Homo sapiens: one gene and its partners. The protein of the gene in region 1 interacts with the protein of each later gene in a biochemical or structural test. Each region holds a gene or a part of one and is shown on either strand. Other genes may lie near its edges. The genes, in order: COPB1, WBP2, GORAB, COPG1 and TMED10.

Region 1 (6,394 bases):
GGAAAAACATAGTCCCTTGAATTTTATTAGTTGTGTACTATTTGCTTACTGACTTGCCTCTTCTTTTGGAAATTTAGAAATATTAGTACAGAGAAGAGTGAACACTAGCTTAATAAAATCCATCACCTTGCTTCAACAATTATAATTCATAGCTAGTTTTGTTTCATCTATATCCTTGCCAAATTTACCTCTTGCCATATTATTTTGAAGCAAATCACAGGCAATGTATCCTTTCTTCTGTAAATATATTGGTAGGTTTCTCTAAAATCAAGGACTCTTTACTTGCAAAACTAATTATTCATCATCACACCTCACAAAATTAATAATTTCCTAATATCAAGACATAGTGTTCACATTTCCAATTGTCCTATAAATGGCCTAATTTTTCTATGTGCACTATAGTTTAAATTCTGAAATTTGTGTAGTCTGTATGGTAACATTAAAGGAACTCACCCTACATTATTATTATTATTATTATTTTTATTATTATTTTTTGAGATGGAGTTTTGGTTTTGTTGCCCAGGCTAGAGTGCAATAGCGCGATCTCGGTTCATCGCAACCTCTGCCTCCCAGGTTCGAGCAATTCTTCTGCTTCAGCCTCCTGAGTAGCTAGGACTACAGGCATGTGCCACCACGCCCAGCTAATTTTGTATTTTTAGTAGAGACGGGGTTTCTCCATGTTGGTCAGGCTGGTCTCGAACTCCCGACCTCAGGTTATCGGCCCGCCTCGGCCTCCCAAAGTGCTGGGATTACAGGCATGAGCCACCACGCCTGGCTCATCTACATTATTAACCAGAATACCACTTTCCTTAATGGATAAAATCTAACAGTAAGATAACTATGAAATTATATCTTAACCAACAAATCTACTAAAGTACAAAGATGCTTATAAAAATTACATTGTAGTCCTTAATAAATTGATACCTGTGACTGTAAAAACTGAGCATTCTAGCTTCATCTAACTGGTTCCTTAAATTGGTTTAAAAATCCAAAATCTCAGCCGGGCGTGGCAGCCTGCACCTACAATCCCAGCACTTTGGGAGGCCAAGGCGAGTGGAACACTTGAGGTCAGGAGTTCGAGACCAGCCTGGCCAACATGGTGAAACCCCATATCTACTAAAAATACAAAAATTGGCTGGGCGTGGTGGTGGGTGCCTGTAATCCCAGCTACTTGGGAGGCTGAGGCAGGAGAATCACTTGAATCCGGGAGGTGGAGGTTGTTGTGAGCCGAGATCGCGCCACTGTGCTCCAGCCTGGGCAACGAGAGTGGAACTCCATCTCAAAACAAAACAAAAACAAATAAAAATTCAAAATCTTCAGCTTTCTAAGAATTGGACTCAGTTATAACTGTAGCCCTTCTCATTTAAAAAGTTCCTTCCTCAAAGCTTCTGACAGTAAAAAGACCGACATTCCACAAAACGAATTCTAAAACAAGGACCAAAGTTAAAAGCCTATAGAGGCTAAGCAAGTGAACATATAAAGTGGCTTGGAGTAATACGGTTGAGAATGACAAGCACTGTCATAAACTGTAAAGTATATAACTTATTTAAAGGGGGTTACTGTTATACAAGTTCAGCAGAATGTTGTCTTGTGGAAGCTAGGAACAGCGCTGCCAGATCTTTTGACTTTTCAATGTTCATAATAAAAAATACAGTGCTGGCCATACAAAATATATCTTCAAGCTATATTCAGTCTGCAAGCAACCACTTTGGAACCACTAGTCTAAAAGACTAAACAGTACTCACAGAATGAAGCCAAAGCAGTATCTTTATTTACCTATAGATGGTATAGATGGCCAAAACAGCATTTCTTCTAACATAGCTGTGTCGATGCTCCAAACATGCACGAATAGCTGGCATTAAAGGTTCTAGCAATTCTGCTTCTTTCAATTTGCAAAGAAAACGAAGAGTAGATCCTCGAATAAATTCATTAGGATGTTGAAGATCCTGATATAAAAATTAAAATATGAAATGCTGAGTTTCAGCTTTTTACAAAAAGAAAATTTTAATGCAAAACTTTCCAATGGAAAAAAAATACGTTTGAGAAAAAACCTAGATTACCGACAATTTCCATCATATTCTTGTTGACTGAAGCAATTTTTACCTATCTCATCAATGTCTTATATGTGTGTCACTGTTTTTTAATTAATATATACACATAAAATGCATAGAAAATGTCTGAAAAGTGACAATAAAACTTTTAAAAATAACTCTTTTACAATTCCAAATCTCTACAACTTACATCTTATCAAAGACTCAATTTTAACAATTAAAACACAGCCCATTCTACCAATTTTACATTTAAATTCAAAGCAATATTCAGAAATAATTATGATTTGGTTTACCTTTCTGTATGCATCACATACAAGGATCATCTCATGTAAAAGTCTCCCATCTGGAGTTGTTTTAGGAACAATTTCCCAAAATACCAGAAGTAATTTCTTGATAGTGTGATCCTGAAGAGGTAGCACAAAACGAATGATGGTCATCAGAAGTCCAGGAAGTTTTTCACCATTCAGAATCATAATGATTACTTTCTTCAAAGCTTCAGTCTTTGACTTTACATCTCCTTTTTCTGAATCAAAAATTTTTTTAAAAAAAAGCACAATTATTTCAAAAGAAAATTCATCACATAAATTTAAAAGCAATTAACAAAATAAAATGTACCTTCTTACTTCAGTATCAGCAATGGTAATAAAAGTACAAACCCAAGTGACAAGGTTCTCCACCTGGTTCTCCACCAAATAATCTGTCTTTGCTCAAGTCATTTATCTCTGGAAATCAGACTCTTTATATATAATATGAAGGCGCTGGATTAGATTTCTGGTTCCTAACCAATTGAGTTAATGCAGGCTCCATGAATCTACAGTCATACCAAGTAAACGTGTTTCAAAACACATATAGCTATTTTTCAAAATGTAAATACATACTATTAATTGATTTTGAATTCAAAACAGCTTTTAGCTATTTGTGTGCATTTTAACAAAGTTAAAACTACTATTATGGGAGGATAAATATGTAACTTTTTTAACATTAGAAAGAGAAACGTCATACTCAAAAAGGCTGAAAACTAAAGTAGTGGATTATTTCTAAAATCTCATCATAGTTCTGCAGGCAGGCTGTAAAACTTTAGAATCTTTCTTAAGATATCATCTGGAAAACTGGGAGGTAATTCAAATGTTCTAGATTAGTAGTCATTATTTAGAATTAAGGATGACACATTAAAGATAAAATGCTAGTTTACTGTTATTTAGCCTAAAAACTCTGCAACATAAAGTATTTTACGCAAAACTATCTAAAATTTCACACCATTATCATTGCATACTGAAGAATTTATAGTACTAAAAATCTTCTGGATCCAAAACTCAAAGGCAGAGAAGTATGTAGTAGCACACTGTACTACAACTGTTTAGATCATCAAAATAAATGAATTATCTTGGGAAGGGGAGAACAAAGAATGATTACAAGTCTTCAATAACCTTAGGGCCATTATGAGGAAAAGAACTACAACTAATGGGTAGTAGTTACCGGGAACCAGATTTGGGCCTAAATATGAGAAATACATTTCTAATGATTAGAGCTAAGCGGCTATGAAACAGAGTTCTGAGCGTCAGATGCGGTGGTTCATCTGGCCCACAGAACTCTTCATTTAATAGCCACTTAAAATTTTTGTATTTTTACTAGAGATGGGGTTTCGCCATGTTGGCCACGCTGGTCTCGAACTCCTGAAGTCAAGTGATCCACCTGCCTCAGCTTCCCAAAGTGCTGGGATTACAGGCATGAGCCACCATGCCCAGTCTCAACTCTTCTTAATGGCAAAAATATACATTAAACTGGAGAGTATGTATTTATTTATTGGTTGGAGGAAGGTAGCTAAGGCAGCTTCAATTAAGACTAGGGCATTGTTCCAACTAAGGGCAGATTTTATTCTTTACCTTCCTAGCTATAACCTTAGGTATCCTGAGGATCTAACAATGAAAATTTTTAAATTATGAGGAAAAACACTAATGAATGTATTCACTATTTTGCATTCAACTATCCTACATGAACATGAAAAAAGGGAAATATATGTGGCTTATGTATATAATGGTATCATTTTAAATATCATAAAACTGGGTTTCTTTTCCCTTCTCTAAAAATAGACCTCAATAGAAACCTAGTATTAAGTAACCTAGAATCAGGAGGTATTCCATTACTGCTGATTAAGAAGTGGGAATAGGCAAGTAAAATATTAAGTTTCTTTTCAAACTGCAAACTATCTTCTAAAAGATCCTTTCTATATTTGAAGCATAATTTTCACTCTGCTCTGTTTAAACAATATTTATCAGTTTAAGTTGTATTTATTTTTAGCAGTTCAATTAAACAAGAATCATTACTTTGGAAAGCATATTAATTATAAATTTTTTTTTTCTTGACAGAATCACTCACAAAAAGGAGACACGGTATACATTTTTAAAATTCAGAAATATGATAAATTTAGTAAAGTTCCAGGACACAAAATCAACATACAAAAATCAGTAGCATTTCTATATGACAACAGTGAACAATCTGAAAAAGAAATTGAAGAAGTAATCTAATCCCATTTACAATACCCACAGATAAAATTAGATACCTAGGAATTAATTTAACCAAATAAATGAAAGATTTCTACAATGAAAACTATAAATACTGATGAAAGAAATTGAAGAGAACATCAACAAATGGAAAGATATTCCATGATCATGGATTAGAAGAATCAGTATTGTTAAAATGTCCATACCACCCAAAGCAATCTAGAGTCAATGCAATTCCCATCAAAATACCAATGACATTCTTCACAGAAAAAAAAAAAAAATCCTAAAATTTATATGGAACCACAAAAGACCCAGAATAGCCAAAGCTATCCTAAGCAAAAAGAACAAAACTGAAGGAATCACATTACTTGACATCAAATTATCCTACATAGCTACAGTAACCAAAACAGCATGGTACTGGCATAAAAACAGACATAAAGACCCATGGAAAATAACAGAACCAAGAAACAAATCCATACACCTACAGTGAACTCATTTTGACAAAGGTGCCAAGAACATACATTGGAGAAAAGACAGTCCCTTCAATAAATGGTGCTTGGAAAACTATGTGCAGAAGAATGAAACTTGTCCCCCATCTCTCAACTTACACAAAAATAAAATCAAAATGGATTAAAGGCTTAAATCTAAGACTTTAAACTATGAAACTACTACAAGAAAATATTGGGAAAAATCTCCAGGACGCTGGTCTGGCCAAAAATTTCTTGAATAATACCCCACAGGCACAGGCAACCAAAGCAAAAACGGACAAATGGGATCACATCAAGTTAAAAAGCTTCCGCACAGCAAAGGAAACAATCGACATACGTGATGAGACAACCCACAGAATGGGAGAAAATATGTGCTAACTACCTATCTCACAAGGGATTAATAACCAGATATGTAAGGAGCTCAAACAACTCTACAGGAAAAAAAAAAACTCATAATCTGATTTAAAAATGGGCAAAAGATTTGAACAGACATTTCACAAAGACATACAATTGGCAAACAGGCATATGAAAAGGTGCTCAACATCACTGATCATCAGAGAAATGCATATCAAAACTACAATGAGATATCATCTCACCCCAGTTAAAATGGCTTTTATCCAAAAGACAAGCAAAAACAAATGCTGGAGAGGATGTGGAGAAAAGGGAACCCTCGTACACTGTTGGTGGGAATGTAAACTAGTATACCCACTATGGAGAACAGTTTGGAGGGTCCTCAAAAAACTAAAAACAGGGGTACCATACGATTCAGCAATCCGACTACTGGGTATATATCCAAAAGAAAGGAAATGAGTACATCAAAGAGATATCTGGACTCCTATGTTTGTTGCAGCACTGTTTACAACAGTCAAAACTTGAAAGCAACCTAAGTGTCCACCAACAGATAAATGTATAAAGAAAATGTGGTACATATACACAATGGAGTACTATTCAGCCATAAAAAAAGAATGAGATCTTGTCATTTGCAAAAATATGGATGGAACTGGAGGTCATTATGTTACATGAAATAAGTCAGGCATAGAAAGACAAACTTCACATGTTCTCACTTATTTGTGGAAGCTAAAAATCAAAACAAACTCACGGAGACAGAGTAAAAGGATGGTTATCAGAGGTGGGAAGGGTAGTGGTAGGGAAGTGGAGATGGTTAATGGGTACAGAAAAAATGAGTTAGACCCGATATTTGATAGCACACAGGGTAACTACAGTCAATAATAATTTAATTGGACATTTAAAAATAACTGAAAGTGTAACTGGATTGTCACACAGAAGACAAATGCTTGAAGGGATGGATACTCCATTTTTCCATGTGATAATTATGTATTGCATGCCTGTATCA
Region 2 (6,394 bases), on another chromosome or scaffold:
CCATTCTGAGGCTCTCTGTGCGACATCGGGGAGGAGAGGGCTGGTCCCGAAGGGCTGCCAGCACCCAAGGGCCCTCACCTGCAGGAGTGGAGGGGACATCGGGGCCGCTGACCGGAGGTTCCATGGGCCCAGGGTAGGGCGGTGGTGGGGGCTGCACGTATCCCATGGCCCCGTCCATCATGGGGGGTCCTGGATAGAACTCTGCTCGGTGAGAGAGTAACAAGGACATGGTGAGCACCCGGCTGCGGCCCCCTCCCGGGTGAGGGGGGCCTCTCCAGCTCCTTCGTTGGTCCTGAAGCAGCTCAAGGAATAAAGTCTCCCTGGCCTGGGGGGAGCCTGGGTAGGTGGGCTCATGAGGGGAGTGGGGGCAGCAAAGGACACACTCACCAGGTGGGGGCGGTGGATAGGGGTAGCCAGGAGGGCAGGGGTACATTCCATTGGCGACTGGCGGGGGATAGACATAGGCCCCGCTGGGCATGTAAGAGTAGCCATAGGCTCCACTGGGGACTTCACCTCTGGAGGCTACGAGTACAAGGGGAAAGAGAAATGAGCGTGGCCTGCCTTGGGGCGGGGAGAGGGCAGCCCCGCTGCCTGCAGATGGGAGCTACTGGGTCTCAGGAATGTGCCCCGCAGACATCCTCTGTCCATCCCACTCCACCCTCCACCCATACTCGGGGGGCCACCTTGGTCAGGGATGAGAGAGGACGGGAGAGGTCAGAGCCAGGGGAAGGCAAGGGAGGTCAAGGGCAAGGCTGGAGGGTGGACAGAGGCCGGGAGGGAGGCTCAGGGCTGGGGTAGGAGTGAGCTGGCGGAGGATGTCTGCTGGCCCATCCCTCGGTCATTTTCAATGGCTGCGGAACCGCAGTCGAATGGTTGGTTTAGTGTTTGTTTTATGAGGCCATAGTAAAGTGTCCTTGAGTCCAAACAGCTTTGTCAAAACGTCATCCACCTGCCCCAGGCAGGGAAACGCAGTCTCTGAGGTACAGGACAGAGCTGATGCCAATGACAGCTTTCCTTCCCAACTCCTAGGCCTGGTCAGCCTGGTGCCCAAACACTTACCTCTTGAGTTCTTGAAAAAGCAAAACGAAAAGGAAGCAAACTCATACCAAACCCCTACATGTTTAGTGTGTCTTTAGCCCCTAATCTTCGGAGCCTGGATACCTTGAGATGCCACCTGGAGCATCCGCTGTCCGAACTCAATGGCGCCCCCTGCCGTGAAAGTCAACTTGTAGGAAGCAGAGCCTTCCCAGCCACCTGAAAGGGGAAGGACAGTGAATAAACAGCACAGGAAAAGAAAACTTATGCCCAAAGAGATGGCTGTTTTCCTCTCCAGGACTTCATCCAACGCCCGGGAGGCCTGCGGGGGCTGGGCCTGCACTGTGATGGGGACTTCCTGGTGCCATGGTTTCCAGCCTGCTGCCTGCATAGGAGCCAGCACTGCAGCCTGGCCTGGCCCTGCTGTACTCGCTTCCCCCTTTGGAACAATGGCCTCTCCTTCCTGGAACAAGCCTGTCCTCCCACCCTTGGCCCAATATGTACACGGGTGCCAAGGCCACATCAAGGTTTCTCTCCGCCCCCAGTCAAGCACTCGGCAGCTTCACAGGAACAAGCCCACTCAGCAACAGCCGACCTTAAAATTCAGAGCAGACCTCTCGTCCTAAGGGGGCCCAAGGACAGACTCCGGCCCCTCTAGCCTGGCTTCTGCCCAAAGGGGGACCAAGAGTGTCTCAATAGCAAGGGCGGGCCTGGCTGGGTGTCAAGGGGAAGGCAAGTTCAATGCAGAGGTCTCTGGGGCCTGCCAAAAAGCCAGCCCCAAAGCAGGGTGACTCTGGCTTCCCAGAGGCAGCTGCCTCTTCCTGGCTCTCATGAAAAGGCCCCTCTCAAGAACCTGATGCAGCTCCTTCCTGAGTCTAAAATTTGTATGCGCTCGCCAAGTTGCACTAAGCATCTTGACTCAGTCCGCAGGCTTCTGCAGACTTCACGCTCTGAAAAGCTGATCTGAGCTGCTGTCTTTCATGCCAGCATTTTCCCCACCTCTTGGCAATCAAACCCCACCAGCTGGCAGCCCAGAGCTGGGAAGAGGTCATGGCTAGGGCGATAAGGGTCTGAAGGGGACGCCCCCACGGCGGCAGTCAGAGGTTCCCAGGACACCTCCCTGCAGGCCCCATGCGTGTCCCTGAGTTCCCATCACCTACCTCCCGCTTCCGCCTTCACTGTTCCCTTGATGTAGTTTGCACCAAATACGGGCTGCTTGATCTCACAGTCTTTCATGAGATAAAATGGCATCATGAAGGACTGCATGGCATCCTTGCCCTTGGACAGAAAGATGACCTGCAGGGAGAGAGGGTGAGGCCATCAGTACTAGAAGCACAGCCCACGCTGCCATGCTTCCCGCCTGCTTCCTGGGAGTGACGAATCCTCTCCCAGTGCCAGGGTCCAGCAGCCCCATGGCTCTCTCTGTGCCAGACACTCCTGGAGAGAGCTTTGGAAAGGGAAAGGGCTCACCGCAGCCTGGAGAGGCCAAGCTCACGCACACGGGAGAAAAACGTGCTGGTCACAGATAGTATCTATGAGCAGGGCAGACTGCTTTGTCACTGACGTGGTGGGGTGGTGGCAGTGTTGCCTAAGTGAAGGGGCCTACGAAGCTAGGGAAGGACAGGCAGAGGCAAGGCAGGGATGGGTTCCTGAAAGAGGGGGGTCTCCAGCCTGAACTCTCCAGAACTGAGAATGATGGTGCAGTAGGTCGCTAGCTCCCATTGAGGGGGGCTATAAACAGCAACAAGAGCTCTCCTGGAGCCTGTGCCTGGAGAAACCCTTGGGTTTTATTTTTTCTTTTCTTTTCTTTTTTTTTTTTTGAGATGGAGTCTTACTCTGTTGCCTGGGCTGGAGTGCAGTGGCGCGATCTTGGCTCGCTGCAAGCTCCGCCTCCCGGGTTCACGCCATTCTCCTGCCTCAGCCTCCTGAGTAGCTGGGACTACAGGTGCCCGCCACCATGCCCGGCTAATTTTTTGTAGTTTTAGGAGAGATGGGGTTTCACCGTGTTAGCCAGGATGGTCTCGATCTCCTGACCTCATGATCCGCCCGCCTCGGCCTCCCAAAGTGCTGGGATTACAGGCATGAGCCACCGCACCCGGCCCCAGCCAGGGTTTTAAACCCACGACTTTTATCTGTGACTGAAGGTGCCAAGTTGAGCCTCCAGAGATGGGGTTTTGAGACTCTCCTGTCTTTGTGAAGTCATGGAGATTAAAACTTGAAAATGTGCTCCTCTTCTTCCAGCTGTCTTTGAGTCTAAGTCTTTTTTTTTTAGGCAGGGTCTCACTCTGTTGCCCAGGCTAGAATCCAGTGGCATGATCCCAGCTCACTGCAGCCTCAACCTCTCCAGGCTCCAGTTATTCTCCACCTTACCTCTCGGGTAGCTGAGACTAGAGGCATGTGCCACCACACCCAGCTAATTTTTGTATTTTTTGTAGAGATGGGGTTTTGCCATGTTGCCCAGGCTGGTCTCGAACTCCTGAGTTCAAGTGGCCTGCCTACCTTGGCCTCCCAGAGTGCTGGGATTACAGGCATGAGCCTCCGCACCAGCCTGTCTTTGAGTCTAAATCTTGAGTAGCCACAGGCAGCAATCCTTTTCCAAGAACATCCATTTGTATTTCTCAACCTCTCAGAGTCCACGTGGGTAACTCTCAGGCAGGGCCCATTCTGCAGCCTGGCATTTGTCATTCTGCGGGGTGGTACCGGGCTCTCTGCCCAGTCCGGAGGCCGTGCCATGCAACTGTACCCTGTTTACTGGATTTCTCACTCTGGATACACACAGGGCTTCATGGGCTACTCTCACAGAAAACAAAATATTAATAATAATAGTCTGGCCTCCAGGCCCAAGTCATGCCAGCGGCTGCATCCAACTCTATAGAGATTTTGCAGCAGCGGCTCTGGAATTGACATGGGTTCACTGCCCAGTGGTCAGGTCAGTTACACAAAGAGCCTGGTGATTCTGGAATCCAGGAGCATGTGACAGAGAAACAGGCAGAGTGAAGCACTAACACTCACCAGGATTCAGAGGCCACCTGACTCATGAGGCTGAGGCAGACCTGAGACTAAGACTCACGTCACCTCCAACAGCAACAAGCCTCTCAACCAACTGCCCTGCTGTGCAACTCACCCGGTAAGGGGTAAGGTAGACAGTGCCTTTCTTGGTCCCTTTGAAGGCTTCTGGCACGTTCTTCATGTCATTGAATGTGAGTTCCACGTGATCATAGGACATTAGGATGCTGTGATGAGAAAAGAGGAAAAGCCTCAATGAGACAGTATGGAGACGCGACGTCACCCAGACACTGGGCCTTTCTCCCAAGCAGCTGCCCGGCACGTCAGCTCTCATAACCTCTCAATAGTGCGGCATTAAAACTATTCATAGGGCTGGGCGCGGTGGCTCACGCCCGTAATCCCAGCACTTTGGGAGGCCGAGGCGAGCGGATGACCCCTGGTCAGGAGTTTGAGACCAGCCTGGCCAACATGGTGAAACCCCATCTCTACTAAAAATACAAAAAAATTAGCCAGGCACCGTGGCGGGCACCTGTAATCCCAGCTAGTCAGGAGGCTGAGGCGGGAGAATCGCTTGAACCCAGGAGGCAGAGGTTGCAGTGAGCTGAGATGGCGCCACTGAACTCCAGCCTGGGCAACAAGAGAGAAGCTCTGTCTCAAAAACAAATAAATAAATAAAGCCATTCATAGGGCCAGGCGCAGTGGCCCACACCTGTAATCCCAGCACTTTGGGAGGCTGAGGCGGGTGAATCGCTTGAGCCTAGGAGTTTGAGACCAGCCTGGGCAACATGGTGAGACCTCATCTCTACAAAAAAACTAAAAACCAACAAAAAAACCCATTAATATAGCCATGGAAGAAATGAGCAGGTTGGGGGTTCTGTAAAATTTCCCAAACCCCGCTTATAAAGCCCCCAAATGATCAACATGGTAGCAGAGCTACAGGGCTCTGAAGAGGCCATCATCCCTCAAGCAAGTTAGATAATCTGGCTTAACTCTTCTATTTTCTTTATTTTTTTTTTTTTTTTTTGAGACGGAGTCTCACTCTGTCACCCAGGCTGGCGTGCAGTGGCGTGATCTCGGCTCACTGCAAGCTCCGCCTCCTGGGTTCATGCCATTCTCCTGCCTCAGTCTCCCAAGTAGCTGGGACTACAGGCGCCCGCCACCACGACTGGCTAATTTTTTGTATTTTTAGTAGAGACGGGGTTTCACCGTGTTAGCCAGGATGGTCTCGATCTCCTGACTTCGTGATCCACCTGCCTCGGCCTCCCAAAGTGCAGGGATTACAGGCGTGAGCCACTGCGCCCGGCCAACTCTTCTATTTTCTTTTAAGTCCTTGTGATAGATGTTCTGTTTTTGCTGGTTTGTTTTTCAAGCCTAAAATATAAACATGTCTAAGAGATGACTGTACAGATCACAATAGGACGTCCTTCGGGGTTCTTTTAAACCTGGGTTCTTAAGCGGGGTTTGCAGGAAAGTCCATGAAGCCCTTGAGATGATCACGTATGTCATATGTGCATTTTTCTGGGAGGAGAGTCCACAGCTTTCATCATTGTCAAAGGAGTTCACGACTTGAAGAGTAACGTTCACTATTTTAATTATAATTTTTTATTTTTTTGAGACGGAGTTTCACTCTTGTTGCCCAGGCTGCAGTGCAACATAGCGTGATCTCAGCTCACTGCAACCTCCACCTCCTGCGTTCAAGCGATTCTCCTGTCTCAGCCTTCCAAGTAGCTGGGATTACAGGCATGCGCCACCACGCCTGGCTAATTTTTTGTGTTTAGTAGAGACGAGGTTTTACCATGTTGGTCAGGCGGGTTTCAAACTCCTGACCTCAAGTGATCCACCCACCTCAGCCTCCCAAAGTGCTGGGATTACAGGCGTGAGCCACCATGCCCAGCCTAATTATCAAATTTTGGACACTGGACTTAACACTTCAATTGTTATAGATACAACTTTTTCAGACAGCAGGCTGAAGCACTTTCTAAAACAGCAGGCTGAAGGCACACCTTACTTAGCAGGACTGAGCCCTAAGCCAGGTAGAAGGCCGAGCAGGATAGATACATTCTTGTCTCAGAAAGTTCCACAGAGACAGAAAGAAAAACAGTCCCCAGAGATGTTGCCAAATGGCACGAAAAGCTGGCCAGGCCTGGGAACTGACTCACACACAGAGATGCAACAAAACAGTGTGAGGTGTCTCTGATTACATGATAAAAAGGTTCACACGGTTCTGTTTGTCTTCTGCCTCCCCCCATATATCACAACTTTCTCTGACTGGGGAAGGGTAAGTGGGAAACAACTGGTATAAGCAAAGGAAAATGGCTGGGCGCGGTGGCTCACTCCTGTAATCCCAATACTT
Region 3 (6,394 bases), on another chromosome or scaffold:
GAAACCCTGTCTCTACCAAAAATACAAAAAAATTAGCTGGGCGTGGTGGTGCATGCCTGTAGTCCCAGCTACTTGGGAGACTGAGGCACAAGAATTGCTTGAACCTGGGAGGTGGACGTTGCAGTGAGCCAAGATCATGCCACTGCATTCCAGCCTGGGCAACAGAGCAAGATTCTGTCCCAAAAAAAAAAAAAAAAAAAAAAAGCAGAACTGAGGAAGGATCAGAAGCAGAAGCAGGGGATGAATAAGTAGAGAATTAAAGAAATGAGAAAGGATCGGAAGCAGGGGATGCCTTCCTTCCTAGCAAGTTCACTAATGCAGCAAGTTACCATGAAGCTCTCTGAGGGCTAAAGGCCGCAATCAAAATAAAGGTTAGAGAAATCCCAGGTGTCAATATTGTAGATCATATGCAAGAGAGTGCATAGTGAGCTGTGGAACTAAGGCGCCTGGTGAGGAGATGCCTGCAGTAGTAAAAGTGAGAAATGACCAGTCCCAGCACTAAGGTGGAAGGTGTAGAAATGGAGAGAGAAGGACAATTTTGGAAGGGGCTACTAGATTTGGGAATAGAGGTATGTGATATAATGGCTGTAAGAAGTGACAGTAATAGGAATAAATAGCTTTGCCAATACCTTGTTTAATTTGAGTTGACATCAAGCTCATGACTTTATGGGAAATTTTAATGTATTTATTTTAGAATTGGACAGATTGTAAGACAATACATGTTTTCACATCTTTGAATTTTTTTCTTTAGCCCAGCATTCCAGTCTTAGCTCTTAGTGTTTTACTTTGTTTAAAAATGTCCAAGTTGGGCTGGGCACAGTGGCTCACACCTGTAATCCCAGCACTTAGGGAGGCAGAGGCGGGAGGATAGCTTGAGCCTAGGAGTTCGAGACCTGACTGGGTAATATAGCGACACCCTGTTCTCCACAAAAAGGAAAAAAGAAAGACAAAAAAAAGTCTTAAGAGTTGGGAAAAAGTGAGCAAATTGAAAGAAAATATTAATATATGAAATAAACATTGGTTATTGTCTGAAACATGTTAAGGTGGTGGAGACTTTATAGAAAACTCTAAAAGGTATAAATAATATGACATCAGCTACAAACCAATTTTTATTAATCTCCATTCTGCATATAATACATAATTAACTTACACAAATTTCTTTGTACTCCTAAACACATGCCACAGTATTCTGGCTTCCAGTTTGTGGATTCCTAGATTATATATATAATGGATTTCAGAGGTCCAATTTATGTAAGCCTCTTTACTTTAGATCGTAGTCTTTGTTCCCATTAGAGCAAAATAATGAACTGCAGATGGGTTTCTTTTAAGAGGACTTTTGAAAGAACATATACATAAATCTTCTTGATTAAATTTTATACTTAGAGGACTGAGACTGGTAAGGTGTTGGATAGGGTAGCAGTTTCTTTTTCTTTCATAAACTCATTTTTATGCTTTTTTTGCCCCCTAGGCAAGAAAAATCTCGTTGGGAAGTCCTCCAACAAGAACAACGGCTAATGGAAGAGAAAAATAAACGTAAAAAAGCTCTTTTGGCTAAAGCTATTGCAGAAAGGTGAGGCACCTGAACCAGGAGAGGCTGTTTGTAACCTGTAACCAGTTGTGTCATGTGTTATATTTGTTTTCCCATGTCTCTTTTAATAAACTGATATTTTTTCTTCAACCATTACTTTTAAGACTAACTAAACAAATTATGCTTTATAAGTGATACTGAAATACTAGTTATAATTTATTAAAGAGAACTTTTTAAGCATAGAGCATATTAAATTTGTAAATATAGTTGCAGTTTTAAAGACCTTCATTAGTGCTCCCAGTTTTAACCATCTACACATTCATAAGGGAAGCAGTAAATAGCTATCAGTATATGTAAATTAGCAACAAATGCAAGTTTTAATTTTTATGTGGGGAGGCCTTAATCATTTGATGTGTAGAGGAATAAGGTTTTCTACATAAGTGACATACTCCCATGAATCTTAATTGGATTTCCTATGGGCATTTTTCTTAAATAATTTGCCCCGCCTCCACAAGTAGAAGATACATGATATAGTTTAACTTTTTATTGATGACTCAGGGTCATTATTATGAGCACTGTGTGAGATTCAATTTTTCTTTCACCTTCCAGTGTCTATCAGCAGCCCCTTCACATTTACTGCATTGTACCAGCCGCACACAACAACATTCCCATTGGAATCATTCTTCCCATCCCCCACCACTCTTGCTGAGTTTGTAGTTTCTGTCTAATCTCCTGTGGCCTTAGGAAACTAAACTTAGTCAATATATCCATGGTTGTGAATAGTGAAAACTAAATGCAAGGAAGTACATTTTCTTTTTAGACTTCCAGAAAAGTCTGTCAAACTGTTACTGCTTGAAGCTAGAGTATGTGTAGGGGCAGGAGAAGAGGGAAGAAGGTGATGGGTATAAGAGTAGTTCAGAATTTTGTCTGCCAGAGGAGTGAGTGTAGTTGAGAAATGGTGATTTTTCTTTTTCTACTACTGGTACACCTTGATCTTTCTTGAAGCATAGGAAATAATGCAACTCACTGAGTTACTATGTTTCAAAGGAAAAAACCAGCAGATAAAAGAGTAGTGCCCTCTTTTTTTTTTTTTTTGGTAAGTGATTATTTAAAAATAATTAAAGCATTTTAGTAGTCTTCAATTTCTAAGAGATGGGAAGGCTGTTTTCTGTGGTTTTACAAAAAGATGTACAGGCTCAGCAGTTCTTCTCATAAGTGCTTTTGATTTTAGACAGCACCAGTATAAACAGAAGTGTAAGGAAATACAACGTTTGAACTATTAATAAATGGACAATGAAGTACTTGACGTAAAAGAATCATACTGTTAAGTGAAGTTTTGTAGGCAGAAAGGAAGGGTAAATGCCTAAGAGTAGAAATCAAGAGAATGTGCTATGTAACATGGTGGATTTATGTGGGGATTTTTCTTCTTCCTTCACAATGTGTGTGAAAATTTGAAATGAGTGAAATCATGATTAAAGGGTTGCTTTTTTATTTGTTTGTTCCCTTTCTTAAGTATATATTGTACTTGGGAGAGGGGATTGAGAAATTATGAGGTTGGATGTGCTTTTAAATAAGGAAAATGAGTGTTTTGATGTTCAGCTCCATAAAGAATTTTCGTAACTAGTAGTTTTCCTAGAGAACAAGAATCAAAGCAATAAAAGTTTGGGGAAATGGGTCCCAAGAAAGTTAAAACTAAGTGGATGTTCTCAGATATATAAAGAGGTGTGGTTTAGTATAGACATCTATCTGTTCTTAATGTCAGGTAAGTATCAGACAAATGAAAATGGGCTTAGCAAGAGGAAGAATTAAAGACTAGAAATTTGGAAAGCTCTGTTGAATGTTTCAATGTAAAGGGAACACAGATATATTCTTTTAGTGTTTGTTCTCTTTACAGAATGAATATCAATCTAAAATGAACTATTTGCTGAGTTTTTTTAGACTTATTTGTTACTTTATGAAACATGCAAATATAAAATTTCAAAAACTCAAATGTTAACCAGCTTTTACTTTATTTCAATTTTTCTGATTTTTTTCTAACTTTTAAAATATAAATTATAAATGTATATGCAGTATCTTGCTTTTTCACTTACATTGTATATGGACACATGGTTTTAAAATGTTCTTATTTTCCCACTCACATACCTGATTTTCTAGATCCAAAAGAACTCAGGCAGAGACCATGAAACTAAAGCGGATCCAGAAGGAGTTGCAGGCTTTAGATGACATGGTGTCAGCTGACATTGGAATTCTCAGGAACCGGATTGATCAGGCCAGCTTAGACTATTCATACGCTCGGTGAGTTGGGGAAATTGAATCTGAACAAGGAGTATGATTTAATTAATGTTTATTGCCAGCTGTTCCAGGGGCTTTTATGTATATCATCATTGAAGCCTCAAAACAACCCCATTCAGTGCTGTATTTATTCTTCTTTTGTGCTAATTCAAGTGTCTCCTCTTCAGTGAAGTCTTCCTTAACTCTGCCCTACTAGTTAACCTTGTTCGTGTGCCATTAGAGCAGTTCTTGCATTATTTATTTACGTTTTAGTCTTTGCTGCGAAACCCTCAGCTATTTAATGTTTGGAAGTGTTTTTGCTCATCTTTCAGCATCTAGCAAAGTAAATATCTGAGTGGTTTCGCCAAAACTGTTACTCTGACACCAAGTCTGTGTTCTTTCCATTAAAATTTTTGATATCTGATATAGTCCTATAGGATTGAAGTCTAGTCCTCACTTTAGCTTTCATCAGAGTAAGAGGATCTAGTTTAGTTTTTAAAAGCTTATGAATATTTTAAGCATATCCTCTGTCTTGGAAATTTGAAATATTTTCTCTTTTTTTTTCCTTTCAATTATACTCTGTATGAAATGGTTTAATATATGTTTCCTTGGTTTCAACCATTGGCATTTTTTAAAAGAGAAAAAATACCATGGAGTATTTTTAAAATGAACTAACACATGTAATGAATTACATGGACTTTGCAGACAGATAAAAGGGCAAAAAAATATGTCCAATTTCAGGGTTTTCAGCCCTTTCAACATTGCTTTAATCATCCTGGTTTGTCTTTTTTCACAAGGGAATGCTGTGTTAATGACTCAGTTTTCTATCTTACTCTGTTACACTAGAAATGAATCAGAATGCCTCATTAGGCCAGGGTAAACCACAACATCAGAATGTTTATATAACAATTTATTAAAGCGGAAATGCTTGATTGTGGTTTTTAATAAACTGTTGAGTGTTTAAGAAAGAGTCTTGTGGTTGTCCTTGTGACTTTTGTAATTGTTGTTGGACCATATGCTATTAGACTTAGAGTTGTCTTTATTAATTAACTACTTAAAAGAATGCCATCAGTAGCTGATAACCAGAGGTTCCAGGTTTCCATTAATAAGGTCATTAAGGGAGATAACAGAGATTTTATTTAAGATTAAACTAAGCCTTGATTTGTAGCACATTTTATTCTCTGTAACATAAGTTTGCCAGAGGAACATTTTTATGCCTTTGTAGCCTTTTATATGAATAATTCATATTATAAGGTAGAAGTACTAGGTACCTCAGTTGAAATTTGAGGCCGGGCACGGTGGCTCACGCCTGTAATCTCAGCATTTTGGGAGGCCAAGGCAGGTGGATCACGAGGTCAGGAGTTCAAGACCATCCTGGCTAACACGGTGAAACTTCATCTGTACTAAAAATACAAAAAATTAGCTGGGCGTGGTGGTGGGCGCCTATAGTCCCAGCTACTCAGGAGGCTGAAGCAGGAGAATGGCGTGAACCTGGGAGGCGGATCTTGCAGTGAGCCAAGATTGCGCCACTGCACTCCAGCCTGGGCAACAGAGCGAGACTCCGTCTCAAAAAAAAAAAAGAAAGAAAAGTAATTTGATTTTAATTTTGTCCTAGTGGAAACTGGAGAAAGACGCTTTTTCATATTCAGTATTATATAAGAAATGTCATAGTTTTAGCCTTCTAAGAACCACAACAAAGAAGGTGGGATTACTAAAGGAAAAAACATCCTATAGTCTATAAGTATCCTAAATGAAATTTTAGTAAATTTTTAAATCTTTAGTAAGTTACAGATGACAGTTTCTCATGGTACTAATATTGATGTAGTTGAATGTAAGTAGATGTTGTGTGCCACTATTTTTGTTTTTATTTTTAGGTTTTTGAGACGGAGTATCACTCTTATTGCCCAGGCTGGAGTGCAGTGGTGCGATTTTGGCTCACTGCAACCTCCGCCTCCCAGATTCAAGCGATCCTCCTGCCTCAGCCTCCTGAGTAGCCCAACTATAGGTGCCCACCACCACACCTGGCTAATTTTTTGTATTTTTAATAGAGATGGGGTTTCACCATGTTGGCCAGGCTGGTCTCCAACTCTTGACCTCAGGTGATCCGCCTGCCTCAGCCTCCCAAAGTTCTGGGATTACAGGTGTGAGCCACCACGCCTGGCCATGTGCTGCTATTTTCAAAAGCCGAAGCTCTTGCGTTGAGTCAAAGGGAAACAAAGACTTTGGTGACTAGAACCGTAGTGTGTCTTGTTCATGCGTAAGATTAAGGTATTATTTTCTAAACTTGCATTTGTGGTTATTGAGAAATTACAGATCGGTAAAATAATATTATGGTCCAGATTTGAAGTGAAAGATAATCCCTAGGACAGTCAGTTTTTATGGGAGATTTCCTTGTTTTTTCTTTTTTTAATAAAAATGATATCTTAGTTCTATAGTATTTGGTACAGTGCTATGTCCACAAAAGGTTCTTGGATAGTGAATAGGCCAGAACTTGCTTTAAAATTGGCTTCTGTAGAGCAGTGTTTGGATAGACACCTCTGAGAAGACTAGCACTTTGAGCCAATTTGAGAGAGTTGCTGCTGCTGCTGCTGCTAC
Region 4 (6,394 bases), on another chromosome or scaffold:
GAGGTTTCACGATGTTGGCCAGGCAGGAGAATGGTGTGAATCCTGACCTCTTGATCCTCCCGCCTCGGCCTCCCAAAGTGCTGGGATTATAAGCGTGAGCCACCGCGCCCGGCCACTTCTCTTTTTTTTTTTGAGATGGAGACTTGCTGGTGTCAGCCTGGGGTGGAGTGCAATGGCATGATCTTGGCTTGCTGCAACCTCCGCCTCCTGGGTTCCAGCAATTCTCCTGCCTCGGCCTCCCGAGTAGCTGAGATTACAGGTGCCCACCACCATGCCTGGCTAAGTTTTGTATTTTTAGTACAGACGGGGTTTCACCATGTTGGCCAGGCTGGTCTCGAACTGACCTCAGGTGATCCACCCGCCTCGGCCTCCCAAAGTGCTAGGATTACAGGTGTGAGCTACTGCGTCCAGCCGCTTCTTTCTTTATTGTTGTCGTTCATTGTTTCTGTTTCCAGTTAGCAGATGGTTGCTAAGTATCTGCTAGTCAATAGGTTAGCACATCCCTAACTAATATTTACACGAGAGTCTAAGAATAATTAGTAGTTGATTAAAGAAAAACAAACCCTTTCCTTATGAAAATAAGCTTGTTGCATACCCAGAAAGCCCTGTTTAGACAAGTCAGTTTACCCTGAGACTTCTCAGACATTGAATATACTTGAAGGGAAATGAACTAGGCTAGAAGGTAACATCTTTGGTCATTTCTTCTTAGGCCCGTGTATTTAATGAAACTCCCATCAACCCTCGGAAATGTGCCCACATCCTCACCAAGATTCTTTATCTCATAAACCAGGTAACAGGGTGAAGCTTGCGGGTAGGGAGAATGGTGCTGGGGGATTGGAGGGGAGTGGACAAATCATGATCACTCTTAGGCTATTGGACAGCCTCTGTGTGGCTGTAGACAACAGCTCAGCTCTGGGTCCCCTCAGCATCCAAGTCTCATATGTTGCCCTTGAGCCTCTTTAGGGTCTGGGGATCTGGTGTGGGCTGATCCTGAAAGAACTGCTGTCTGACCCTCTGTCCCAAGCTGAGACTTCTTTCTTGATTAACACAGGGGGAGCACCTGGGGACCACGGAAGCGACCGAGGCCTTCTTTGCCATGACCAAGCTCTTTCAGTCCAATGATGTAAGTGCCTCAACCCAGCTTTCCTTGAGAGGTGGCAGCTGTAACAAGGTGGTGGGAGGGCCAAAGAGAGCTGGCCCCACCAGTCAGTGTGGGCTGCCTTTGTGGAGACAGGAGGTATCTTCTCCCAACTCTGGCCCTTGGTGAGCCCGGGCTGATAGGGCTTTTCCCACCTATCTCCCAGCCCACACTCCGTCGGATGTGCTACTTGACCATCAAGGAGATGTCTTGCATTGCAGAGGATGTCATCATTGTCACCAGCAGGCAAGTCATGGGGTTGTGGGTGGCTCTTCTGATGGGTTCCATTGACAGACCATTTTTTTCTTGTGTGTACCAGACAGTGAGACTTGGTTGCATATTGCCAGCTGCCCACCCCGTGGCAGCTTCCCTGTTACCACTGCCCACCCCATGGCAGCCTCCAGGTGTGCTGTTTCTATTTTAATTCTCTGACCTTGACTTGGACACAAATGCTTCCTTTTCTTGATTTCTCTTAGTCAACCAAACCAGCTTAGAACTTTCCCAAAGACTTTCTTGAGTATAAAGAGAGAACACAAGAAAAATAAACAAGAGAGTACAAGCGGTATACTGCTTACTAAGTGACTGGTGTCTGCTTTAAGCTAAGCAATTCAGGGACAGATGTGACTAAAGTGTAATCACTGCCCTTAAGAACTGGGGCTCAGTTCTCTTATTTCTTCCTGCCACAGTTTAAGGTTGTGGGGGTCATACATTGATTTGTAGGTTCAGTTAGAAAATATTGTCTGTCAGTCCCTGTGTGTAGCTCTGGGGATATAGCAACAAAAAAGATAGACATGGCCTCTGTAGCCCCAGAATTTACAGAGAAATAACCAGGCATCAGGCCATTAAGGTAGGGTGTAATATAGTTTATCACGGAAGTATTATGGGCTATGAGAGCAGACCAGAAGAGCATCCAGCTTGATTAGAATTACGAAAGTCCTCCCAGAGGAATGATCTAAGTGGAGTCCTGAAGGATGAGTAAGAAATAGTAGGACAGGACAGGCGCAGTGGCTCATGCCTGTAATCCCAGCACTGTATCCACAATGTAATCCACAGACTGCGATGGGTGGATCACTTGAGGTCAGGAGTTTGAGACCATCCTGGCCAACATGGTGAAACCCCGTTTCTACTAAAAATACAAAAATTAGCCAGGTGTGGTGGCGCACACCTATAATCCCAGCTACTGGGGAGGCTGAGGCAGGAGAATTGCTTGAACTGGGGAGGTGGAGGTTGCAGTGAGCTGAGATCATGCCACTTACACTCCAGCCTGGGTGACAGAACGAGACTGCGTCTCAAAAAAAAAAAAAAAAAGCCAGGAGTGATGGCTCATGCCTGTAATCCCAGCAGTTTGGGAGGCCGAGGCGGGTGGATCACAAGGTCGGGAGTTCAAGACCAGCCTGGCCAACATAGTGAAACCCCCTCTCTACTAAAAATACAAAAATTAGCCGGGTATGGTGGCATGTGCCTGTAGTCCCAGCTGCTGGGGAGGCTGAGGCAGTAGAGCTTGAGCTCGGGATGTAGAGGTTGCAATGAGCCAAGATCGCACCCCATTGCGCTCCAGCCTGGGCGACAAAGCGAGACTCTGTCTCAAAAAAAAAAAGAGTAGGACAGAGTGGAGGTGAGGGGTGAGGAATGCTACAGGCTGAGGAAACAGCACATGCAAAGGCTGGAGAGGAGTGAGCATAGCCAGTTAGGGAAGTTCAAGGAGTTACATTCAGGTCACTGGCAGTAGGAAGCTATGGAAACTTTTTAGCAAAAGCAGGGGGATGACCTGTTTGGTTTTGAGTCTTATGAAACTCCCTCCAGCAGCTGTGTGGAGTTAGGCTTGGAGGGGCAGGAATAGAGGGAGAGCACTGGTTAGGAGGCTCGTGTAGTAATCTGGGCAAGGGTGGTGTTGGGAGCTGGAGAGGAGTAAACAGGCCCAGGCTCTCTGCATGCTGACAATGCCTTCTTCCCTGCAGCCTAACAAAAGACATGACTGGGAAAGAAGACAACTACCGGGGCCCGGCCGTGCGAGCCCTCTGCCAGATCACTGATGTGAGTCGTGCCGGTTCCTCCCTGCTTCCTGGCCTCTTGATTGAGGCCTCGGCATCATCTTTTGCATTCTTTGGGGTGTCCCCTATCACTGAGCCAGGTGATGTGGGGTGGAGGCAGTGTGCAGGAGCACATGAGAAACGCTTACTTCCTCCTCATACTCATCTCTGCCCCCATTCCTGCACTCCTGAGAGCTGCCAAGGACTGACTGGATCTCCTTCCACCCTGCTCCTTTTGCCCACAGAGCACCATGCTGCAGGCTATTGAGCGCTACATGAAACAAGCCATTGTGGACAAGGTGCCCAGTGTCTCCAGCTCTGCCCTCGTGTCTTCCTTGGTGTGTAGTTGCTGCTGGAGCCCTGCTGGGGGTGGGGTAGAAAATTGAAGAAAATTTAAGAGTCACATTCCAGTAGGAAAAAAGAAAGTGTTTCTTTCTTTCTTTTTTTTTTTTTGATTGAGACGGAGTCTCACTCTGTCACCCAGGCTAGAGTGCAGCGCCACGATCTCGGCTCACTGCAACCTCTGCCGCCGGGGTTCAAGTGATTTTCTTGCCTCAGCCTCTTGAGTAGCTGGGATTACAGGCGTCTGCCACTGTGCCCAGCTAATTTTTGTGTTTTTAGTAGAGACAGGGTTTCATCATCTTGGCCAGGCTGGTCTTGAACTACAGACCTCATGATCTACCCGCCTCGGCCTCCCAAAGTGCTGGGATTGCAGGCGTGAGCCACTGTGCCTGGCCTCTCTTTCTTCTTTTTTTTTTTTTGAGACAGAGTCTCACTCTGTTGCCCAGGCTGGAGTGCAATGGCTCGATTTCAGCTCACTGCAACCTCTGCCTCCCTGGCTCAAGCGATTCACATGCCTCAGCCACCTGAGTAGCTGAGATTGCAGGTGTGCACCACCACGCCCAACTGATTTTTGTATTTTTGGTAGAGACGTAGTTTCACCATGTTGGTCAGGCTGGTCTTGAGCTCCTGACTTCAAGTGATCCACCCGCCTCGGCCTCCCAAAGTGCTGGGATTACAAAGCGTGAGCCACCGCACCTGGCCAAAATAAAGTATTTCTGTATCTGTAAGCCTGAGAGTCCCACCCTTCTCAGTGAAGACAGCCAAGAAACTCTGGGGTGATTGAAGAGAGTCGTGGGTGGATGGTGTTGACCCATGCCTTGGGGAGGGACATTGAGGGTGGGAGCATCCTGAGTTTGTCCATGGTCTCTGAGGACCAGGACAGTGGCGAGCCCCTGAGCTGTGTCTGAGGGAAGACCAGAACTGGGCCCAGAATGTGTGATGGGGACACTTCCTACCTGCCCCTTAATGTGTCCTGTTGCCCACAGCACCTGCTGAAGTGCAGCTTTGACGTGGTCAAGCGCTGGGTGAATGAGGCTCAGGAGGCAGCATCCAGTGATAACATCATGGTCCAGGTGAGATGTGAGCAAGGGAGTGATATTTAAAACACTCAGGCAGGTGGTAAGGCACTGGCCAGTTGGCATGGACACTTGCCACCGAGATCCTTGTGACCCCTGGCCATAGCAGGCTTTAATCCTTTCGTCATTGGATCATGGGAGGAATTAGGAGGTCCTGGGTTAGAGAATCCAGGGTACCACTTGGGGCGCTTGGGTTACAGACTGCTTACCAGCTGGTGCTGAAATATTCAAGTATTTTGATAACCAGCTGAGTATTGTTTTGGAGCATATGATGTGGCAAACTTGGCCAAGGCAGGCAGAGGGCCGCCTAAATTTAGGCCTTTGCCAGCCTGGCTTTGTTATGATGTGTGGAATTATCTTGATGAGGCTTTCATCCACTTTACTCTTCCTCAGTGACCTAGGACAGCCGTTCCTTTTATCTCTCTGGCTCTTGGTTTCCTTGTCTGTAAAATACGAATGAAGGTTACTGCCTCACAAAGCAGCAAGGACGAGCTGAGATCATGCATGTAACATGTGACCCATCTGGGTCATGAGTGCCTATCGGCGCTCCCTGTGTGTTTATGTATTCCCTTTATCTCTCATCTGTCTTCTCATCCTTTGCACGATTCTTGTCTTCAGGGCCAGCTGTGGCCCCTCAAAACACTTATGAGGGCCAGATAAGCTTCCCACATAGAAGGCTTCCACAGCTGCCATATCTTTGCCCCCAAATGTCGCTCCTTTAGGAAACAAAAGAGAGTATCGAGGACAGGAAATAACTATGAGACCTCACATCTTTAGAAAGGGAGTCTCTGGGCTTCTGGCCCTCCAGGCCTAGCTTTGTCAGTACCAGCCAGGAGTCTTTGGGCAAGTCAGCAAAGATTAAACTGTCTACCTTCAGGGTTGTTGTGGGTAATGCAAGATTTCATGGCTAAGGTGTCCCACACAGTGACTTACAAAACATGACAATGCTCAGGGTCTGGCTCCCACCTTCTCTCTCTCATTGTCTGATTGAAAGCACCAGGTCTCCCACATTGCTTTCATCTTTGTGCTGTTTGTTGTCCCTTTCCATATCTGTATTTATGCTACCTGTTAGGGCTCTTGCCGAAGCAGGGGTGGGAACAAGAACCACAGATATACTTCTGTGGTTTGTGAAGCATTGTGTGGAGGGCTGTGTACACAGAGTACCTGGGGCAGTTGTCACAGCCACTCTGTGTGGTAGCTGCTACTGTGCCCATCTTAGAAATGAGAAGGCTGAAGGACCCACCCAGGGCCACACAGCCAGTATACCCAAAAGTCATACATTTGTACTCTGTTGCTGTCTCCTGTCCTATAGTACCACGCACTAGGGCTCCTGTACCATGTGCGTAAGAATGACCGCCTAGCCGTCAATAAGATGATCAGCAAGGTCACACGGCATGGCCTTAAGTCTCCCTTTGCCTACTGCATGATGATCCGGGTGGCCAGCAAGCAGCTGGAAGAGGAGGATGGCAGGTAACGGCTCTCATCTCTCACCAGCTAGATGATGCCTCACTCATCCTACCATGCTGGGCCACCCCCAACGTTTTCTTGCCACCCTATGTTCTTTTGTAGCCGTGACAGCCCACTGTTTGACTTCATCGAGAGCTGCTTGCGCAACAAGCACGAGATGGTGGTGTATGAAGCCGCCTCGGCCATCGTCAATCTGCCAGGCTGCAGTGCCAAAGAGCTGGCCCCGGCTGTGTCAGGTCACTGGGCATTCCTTCACCCAGCCTCACATGTTTATGCTTGCTGGGAACTAGGCCTGGGTTCCCGGGCTAGGAGAAAGAAAGAAAATGCTCTTAACAAGTGTT
Region 5 (6,394 bases), on another chromosome or scaffold:
TACAGTATCTTTTCATACAACTTTTGGTGAGGGGGAAAAAAGAAGTTATAAGCCAATGGGACACATAGGGGACACAGAAAGTCAAACATTGATCCAGGTAAAGAGAACATTATATTCAAAGAACTGTAAGGTGTTCAGTATAGCTAGAGTCAGAGTGGGAGGAAGCAAATAAAGAGAATGGAAGAGGGAAAGATCAGAGATGAGGCAAAGACAGTGCTTGCTCGTCTGTTCACTAATTCCTTAGGATAAGGTCCTACTATGTGCCAGGCCTTATTTTAGACAAGCATTGCAATGATGAATGAAACCTAGTCTCTGTTCAAGCAGCTTATAGTTTATCCCAGGAGATGGGCAAATACACAACTGCAACACAGAGTGGTATATGATAACATAGGTGCATTCACTGGATACTGAGATGTTCCTAGACAGAAAGAAGGTGAATCAGTCAGATTAACCAAGGCACTATATTCACAGAGACCCTTATAAGAAAGACTGCCTCAGGCTAGGCACAGTGGCTCACGCCTGTAATCCCAGCACTTTGGGAGACGGGCGGATCACCTGAGGTCAGGAGTTTGAGACCAACCTGGACAATATTGTGAAACCCCGTCTCTACTAAAAATACAAAAATTAGCCGGGAGTAGTGGTACGCGCCTATAATCCCAGCTACTTGGGAGGCTGAGGCAGGAGAATTGCTTGAACCTGGGAGGCAGAGGTTGCAGTGAGCCGAGATCATGCCATTGCACTCCAGCCTGGGCAAAAAGAGCGCAACTCCATCTCAAAAAAAAGACTGCCTCATTCAGCACAACCACCAAATGCTAAGCTCAGCTGGCCAGGTTCTGCACCAGTCTCCAGTTCTCCTCCTACCTCAAATCAAACCACAGCTGCCTAAAGCAGGGGTGGAAATATGACCAAAGACAAGACAATCCATTGGCTGAACTGAGACCTAGAATGTGGCCTACCATATGAAAAGGAGCTCTGGCACTTAGGAGTTGCACTCCAGAAGCTAAAATGATGCATAGGGAGAATCCTTGAAGCAGTCGTCAAAATATAAGAAAAAGTGGAACGGCCGGGCGTGGTGGCTCATGCCTGTAATCCCAGCACTTTGGGAGGCAGAGGCGGGCGGATCATGAGGTCAGGGGATTGAGACCATCCTGGCTAACACGGTGAAATACAAAAAATACAAAAAATACAAAAAATTAGCCGGGCGTGGTGGCGGGCGCCTGTAGTCCCAGCTACTTGGGAGGCTGAGGCAGGAGAATGGTGTGAACCCCGGGGAGCAGAGCCTGCAGTGAGCCAAGATTGCACCACCGCACTGCAGCCTGGGTGAAAGCGAGACTCCATCTCAACAAAAAAAGAAAAAGTGGAACTAAGTGAACGGACACCATGAAAAAGACTGAAAGCCGCTATGGGCTGCATCTGCTCACAAATGTGTTCTGTGGCTTGCATGGTATATTACATTTTCAAAAATGACACCTAGCTTGTGGTCTCCAAATACCAATCCCCACAAAAAGGAACTAGAATTCCTTAGAGAAACAGTTGTTCTGAGGTCAGAGGATAGACATATACAAGATAAGCCTAGAACACTTTGTTGTGCCAGAAAACAAGGATGCTATCAAAACCTAACAGGATTATGTTGAAAAAATACAGGAGCCAATATGAAGGAACCAAAGGGACAAATTGGGCATAAAGAATGGAAACAACTGCCTAAAACACAATGATTCTAAAAGTTGAAGCCAACAATTAAAAAGAGTTCAGTAAAATACTTTAAAAAAAAACCCAAAAACTCTTGGACAACACTGAAAATGACAAGGGCAACAATTCCTTACTCTGACAATTATCAATTAGAAGAAATAAATTCTGCATTTATCCTACCAATGTGAATGATAAATTTTAGGATAATCAGATGATATTAATTCCTTAAGAATAATTTCAGCTAATAAATATGGAAGGAGTAACGGAATTAGAAAGTCATCATTTCACAACCTTAATGACATAATAAATGCACACAGTAGTCATCAGTGGATTCCTAAGTGAAAGGTTAATGGGAAACTTTACAATGAAGGCTTTGGGCTATTACCACCCGGGTAGAGAAAAAAATGCCTCCCACACACAAAGATGTCCACATCCTAATCCCTAGAACCCACGAATGTGTTATCTTACATGGCAAAAGGGATTGTGCAGATGTGATTAAATCAGATTAAGGGTCTTGAGGTGGAGAAGATTATCACAAGGGTCCTTATAAGGGAACGAGGGAGGCAGGTGAGTAAGAGAATGAGATGAGATGATGATAGCCGGGGAAGGAGGGAGGAAGAGAGGAAGAAGGGGTGGTGAGGAACAAAGCAGAGGATGGAAAAGGGAAGGAAAGGGAGAGAGTTAAAGATACTATGCTACTGGCTTTAATTTTTTTTTTTTTTTTGAGACAAAGTCTCGCTCTGTCACCCAGGCTGGAGTGCCGTGGCACGATCTCGGCTCACTACAATCTCCGCCTCCCAGGTTCAAGCGATTCCCCTGCCTCAGTCTCCTGAGTAGCTGGGACTACAGGTGTGCACCACCATGCCCAGCTAATTTTTGTATGTTTGGTGAAGACGGGGTTTCACCATGTTGGCCAGGCTGGTCTCAAACTCCTAACCTTCAGTGATTTGCCCGCCTTGGCCTCCCAAAGCGTTGGGATTACAGACGAGAGCCACCGCGCCCAGCCTGGCTTTAAAGATGGAGGAAGGAGATATGAGCCAAAGAATACAAGTGGCTTCTAGAAGCTAGAAAGGGCAAGAAAACTGATCCCCACCCCACTCCCAAAAAGTCTCCAGAAGAAACATGGCTCTGCCAAAACCCTGATTTTAGGACTTCTGACCTTCAGAACGATTAAGACAAATCCCTGATGTTTTAGGCCATAAATCTGTGGTAATTTGTTACAGCAGCAATAGGACACTAAGACACACCTTAATCCACTTATCAATCTTAGCAGCAGCAATAAGGGGCACAAAAAGTACTGTGTGTTCCTGCAGTGACACCCTCGACAGAAAGATTAAACCTGAATCTGGTTACATCTTTTTTTTTTTTTTTACACTTTAAGTTCTGGAGGGGTACATGTGCAGAACGTGCAGGTTTGTTACATAGGTATACGTGTGCCATGGTGGTTTGCTGAACCTCTGGTTACATCTTTACAGCTGATTCCTTTTACAAAAAATATAGTGGAAGAACTGGTTAAAAGACACCTCTAGGAAGCAAAAGACAACTCCGAAATGCTGTACATTCTTTTAAGAGCAATTGACTCCAACAATTCAATTGCAAGGATAAAAAAGGAGGTGAGAGGAAGAGGAGACTGCTCTAGATTAGACACTTGAGAGAGACAACAAATTAACTTTCAAAAGATATTTTTGAGACAAGTGGGATCATACTATATGGACTGGGTATCAAGGAATCATTGTTCTTTTTTTTTTTTTGGAGACAGAGTCTCACTCTGTAGCCCAGGTAGGAGTGCAGTGGCACAATCATACTTCACTGCAACTTCCGCCTCCCAGGTTCAAGAGATTCTCCTGCCTCAGCCTAGAGCAGCTGGGATTACAGATGTGTGCCACCACGCCCAGCTAATTTTTTTTTAAATTTTTAGTAGAGACGGGGTTTCACCGTGTTGGTCAGGCTGGTCTCGAACTCCTGACCTCGTGATTCGCCCACCTCGGCCTCCCAAAGTGCTGGGATTACAGGCATGAGCCACCGCGCCTGGCCATCATTGTTCATTTTGTGAGGCGTGATTAGCCACGTAACATTGTGGTTTATATTTTTAAAGAGATGCATGCTGAAGTAGGCAGGAATGAAATACATGACATCTGGGATTTACTTTAATACAATTTAGCATGAAATGATATGGCAGAAGCAGTTAAGATGACACGTGTGGAAAGATCCTGATAATTGGTGAATATGAGTAATGGGTAGAAAGGTGAACTCACTATACTATTCCCTATAACACTGAAAACAAATCAATGCCCGAACCAATCTGAATTGGCTGGTGAAATTTTTTTTTTTTAATTTTTAGGGGGCCAAACCATTTTATTGAGGAAAATGGAGTGGCAAAGCAGTGGTGAGGACAATGAGATCCATGGCCCTCGGGTGGGCCGGGAGCTCCCAAGCTCTGCAGTGCTGAAACCTGGCTGATGAAATTTAAAAGTCTGGAGCTTTCACATCAAAATCTGGTGTTCCTATTTCATTTGAAAAATCAGATGTGGGCTAGGTGCAATGGCTCATGCCTGTAATCCGAGCACTTTGGGAGGCCGAGATGGGCGGATCACTTGAGCCCAGGAGTTCGAGACCAGCCTGGGTAACATGGCGAAACTCCATTTCTACAAACAAATATGAAAACTAGCCGGATATGGTGGCATGTGCCTGTAATCCCAGCTACTCAGGAGCCTGAAGTAGGAGGATCACCTGGGCCCTGAGGAGGTCAAGGCTGCAGTGAGCTGTGATGGTGCCACTGGAGGGAGGGAGGGAGAGAGGGAGGAAGAAAGGAAGGAAGGGAAGGAAGAGGGGAGGGGAGGGGAAGGGAAAAATCAGATGTGGCAAAAAGGCCCACATGCTTGCATGGCAAGTCTCATCAAGAACTAAGTATTGGTCACCCCTAATTAACAGTTTCTACTACGTCCAATTATTCTCCCATTTATCATCACTGCTTTTTTTTTTAAAATACCTGGTCCAATTTATTCAATGATATTACCTATTTGGCATTTGGGTTTAGGACCCTTGTGGTTCCATTAAGCTGGTTAGTAGCAAAAGAACAGAGCAGACACAGGAGAGCAACTGAGTGATAGTAAAGTGCTAGGGTGTGTGCACAAAGTCCTGCTGGTTTTTGTTTTGCTTTGTTTTGTTTTGTTTTGAGACCGAGTCTTGTTCTGTTGCCCAGGCTGGAGTGCAGTGGCACGGTGTCAGCTCACTGCAGCCACTGCCTCCCAGGTTCTAGTGATTCTCCTGCCTCAGCCTCCCGGGTAGCTGGGATTACAGGCACACGCCACCATGCCCAGCTAATTTTTGTATTTTTAGTAGAGACTGGATTTTAGCATGTTGCTGAGGCTGGTCTTGAACTCCTGACCTCAGGTGATCCACCCGCCTCGGCCTCCCAAAGAGTTAGGGTTACAGGCATGACCCACCAAGCCCGGCCTAAAGTCCTGCTGTTGAGGTGCCTTCAGCAGCCCTAAATTCAATGTAATTCCCATAAGGCCATGCTAAACTACAGTTCCTGTTATTTATAGAGTACTTACTAGAAGCAAGGTAACATGCTTGGCATTCTAGAAAAGATGAACCTGAAAATAGTTCCTACCCTGAGGATACTAACAGTCTAGTAAGTAGGTCAAGGCATAAACAAAAACAGTTCAGAAAATAAGTGAGTTCAGGGTACTGTCCAGGGTGGCTCCATGTAGAATGCAAAGTGGGAAGTGACCACACGTATAGCTCAGAAACAGATCATGAAGAGCACAACAAAGCATGTTGAGAAATTTAAACTATCAATAAGCAATAGTGAGCCACTGAAGGGCTTTAAAATATAAGAACAAATCAGACAGCAACACGAGATGAGAGCAAGGTCTCTTTCATTGCTGAAATTCCCTGAGTCCATGAACATCCTCTGAAGAGTTGGAAGCATGATCTCCCACCCCGGAAACACTATATCTAAGCTTCTAAAATCATGCCATCACTATTTTCCTGGGTAGAGAGTTTGATACCCAAACAGAATAATAAAATGATGGGTCACAGATTAATTGCCCTGAAAATAGTTTGTCTCTCCCAAATAAAGTAGAAATAAATTACATGTATTACCACACTACTGGGTTCCACTACTTTAACATAAGTTATGGTCTTATTATATCTGAAACCCTTTTAAAAAGTAAAAACGAGGCCAGGCGCGGTGGCTTACGGCTGTAATCCCAGCACTTTGGGAGGCCGAGGCGGGCAGATCACGAGGTCAAGAGATCAAGACCATCCTGGCCAACATGGTGAACCGTCATCTCTACTAAAATACAAAAATTAGCTGGGTGTGGTGGCTGGCGCCTGTAGTCCTAGCTACTCGGAAGGCTGAGGCAGGAGAATTGCTTGAAACCGGGAGGCAGAGGCTGCAGTGAGCCGAGATCGCGCCACAGCACTCCAGCCTGGACGACAGAGCAAGACTCCGTCTCAAAAAAAAAAAAAAAAAAAAAAAAAGTAAAAATGTTTCTATTTAGTATAACAAAAGCCCCATTGTGTTACAAAGAAAAAAAAAGACACTTTGCTTATTGTGAATGAATAAAATTACCTAAAATGCAACCAAATACTGACAGATATCAAATTATATTAATGTCTCAAAGACCAGGCCAGGCTACTCTTAGCTACAAAACAGAATCAAACTGGTATTATGGCAGTAGTTGTCACCATCCAA

The links.
Region 2: the proteins of COPB1 (region 1) and WBP2 form a complex in vitro, tested with the Homo sapiens proteins (one study listed by BioGRID).
Region 3: the proteins of COPB1 (region 1) and GORAB form a complex in vitro, tested with the Homo sapiens proteins (one study listed by BioGRID).
Region 4: the proteins of COPB1 (region 1) and COPG1 form a complex in vitro, tested with the Homo sapiens proteins (one study listed by BioGRID).
Region 5: the proteins of COPB1 (region 1) and TMED10 form a complex in vitro, tested with the Homo sapiens proteins (one study listed by BioGRID).

What each region holds. Positions count from the first base shown.
Region 1 is NC_000011.10:14,491,866-14,498,259, forward strand, and holds part of COPB1 (coatomer subunit beta), read right to left. Parts: intron 2,575-6,394; coding exon 2,345-2,574; intron 1,947-2,344; coding exon 1,777-1,946; intron 1-1,776. UniProt on the Homo sapiens protein: The coatomer is a cytosolic protein complex that binds to dilysine motifs and reversibly associates with Golgi non-clathrin-coated vesicles, which further mediate biosynthetic protein transport from the ER, via the Golgi up to the trans Golgi network.
Region 2 is NC_000017.11:75,847,409-75,853,802, forward strand, and holds part of WBP2 (WW domain-binding protein 2), read right to left. Parts: intron 4,269-6,394; coding exon 4,160-4,268; intron 2,332-4,159; coding exon 2,196-2,331; intron 1,255-2,195; coding exon 1,162-1,254; intron 523-1,161; coding exon 388-522; intron 202-387; coding exon 79-201; intron 1-78. UniProt on the Homo sapiens protein: Acts as a transcriptional coactivator of estrogen and progesterone receptors (ESR1 and PGR) upon hormone activation. In presence of estrogen, binds to ESR1-responsive promoters. Synergizes with YAP1 to enhance PGR activity.
Region 3 is NC_000001.11:170,541,023-170,547,416, forward strand, and holds part of GORAB (RAB6-interacting golgin), read left to right. Parts: intron 1-1,468; coding exon 1,469-1,570; intron 1,571-3,682; coding exon 3,683-3,823; coding exon of another isoform or gene 3,824-3,827; exon of another isoform or gene 3,828-4,769; intron 4,770-6,394.
Region 4 is NC_000003.12:129,251,572-129,257,965, forward strand, and holds part of COPG1 (coatomer subunit gamma-1), read left to right. Parts: intron 1-709; coding exon 710-790; intron 791-1,051; coding exon 1,052-1,123; intron 1,124-1,304; coding exon 1,305-1,384; intron 1,385-3,096; coding exon 3,097-3,172; intron 3,173-3,413; coding exon 3,414-3,506; intron 3,507-4,496; coding exon 4,497-4,583; intron 4,584-5,898; coding exon 5,899-6,056; intron 6,057-6,155; coding exon 6,156-6,289; intron 6,290-6,394. UniProt on the Homo sapiens protein: The coatomer is a cytosolic protein complex that binds to dilysine motifs and reversibly associates with Golgi non-clathrin-coated vesicles, which further mediate biosynthetic protein transport from the ER, via the Golgi up to the trans Golgi network.
Region 5 is NC_000014.9:75,168,885-75,175,278, forward strand, and holds part of TMED10 (transmembrane emp24 domain-containing protein 10 precursor), read right to left. Parts: intron 1-6,394. UniProt on the Homo sapiens protein: Cargo receptor involved in protein vesicular trafficking and quality control in the endoplasmic reticulum (ER) and Golgi.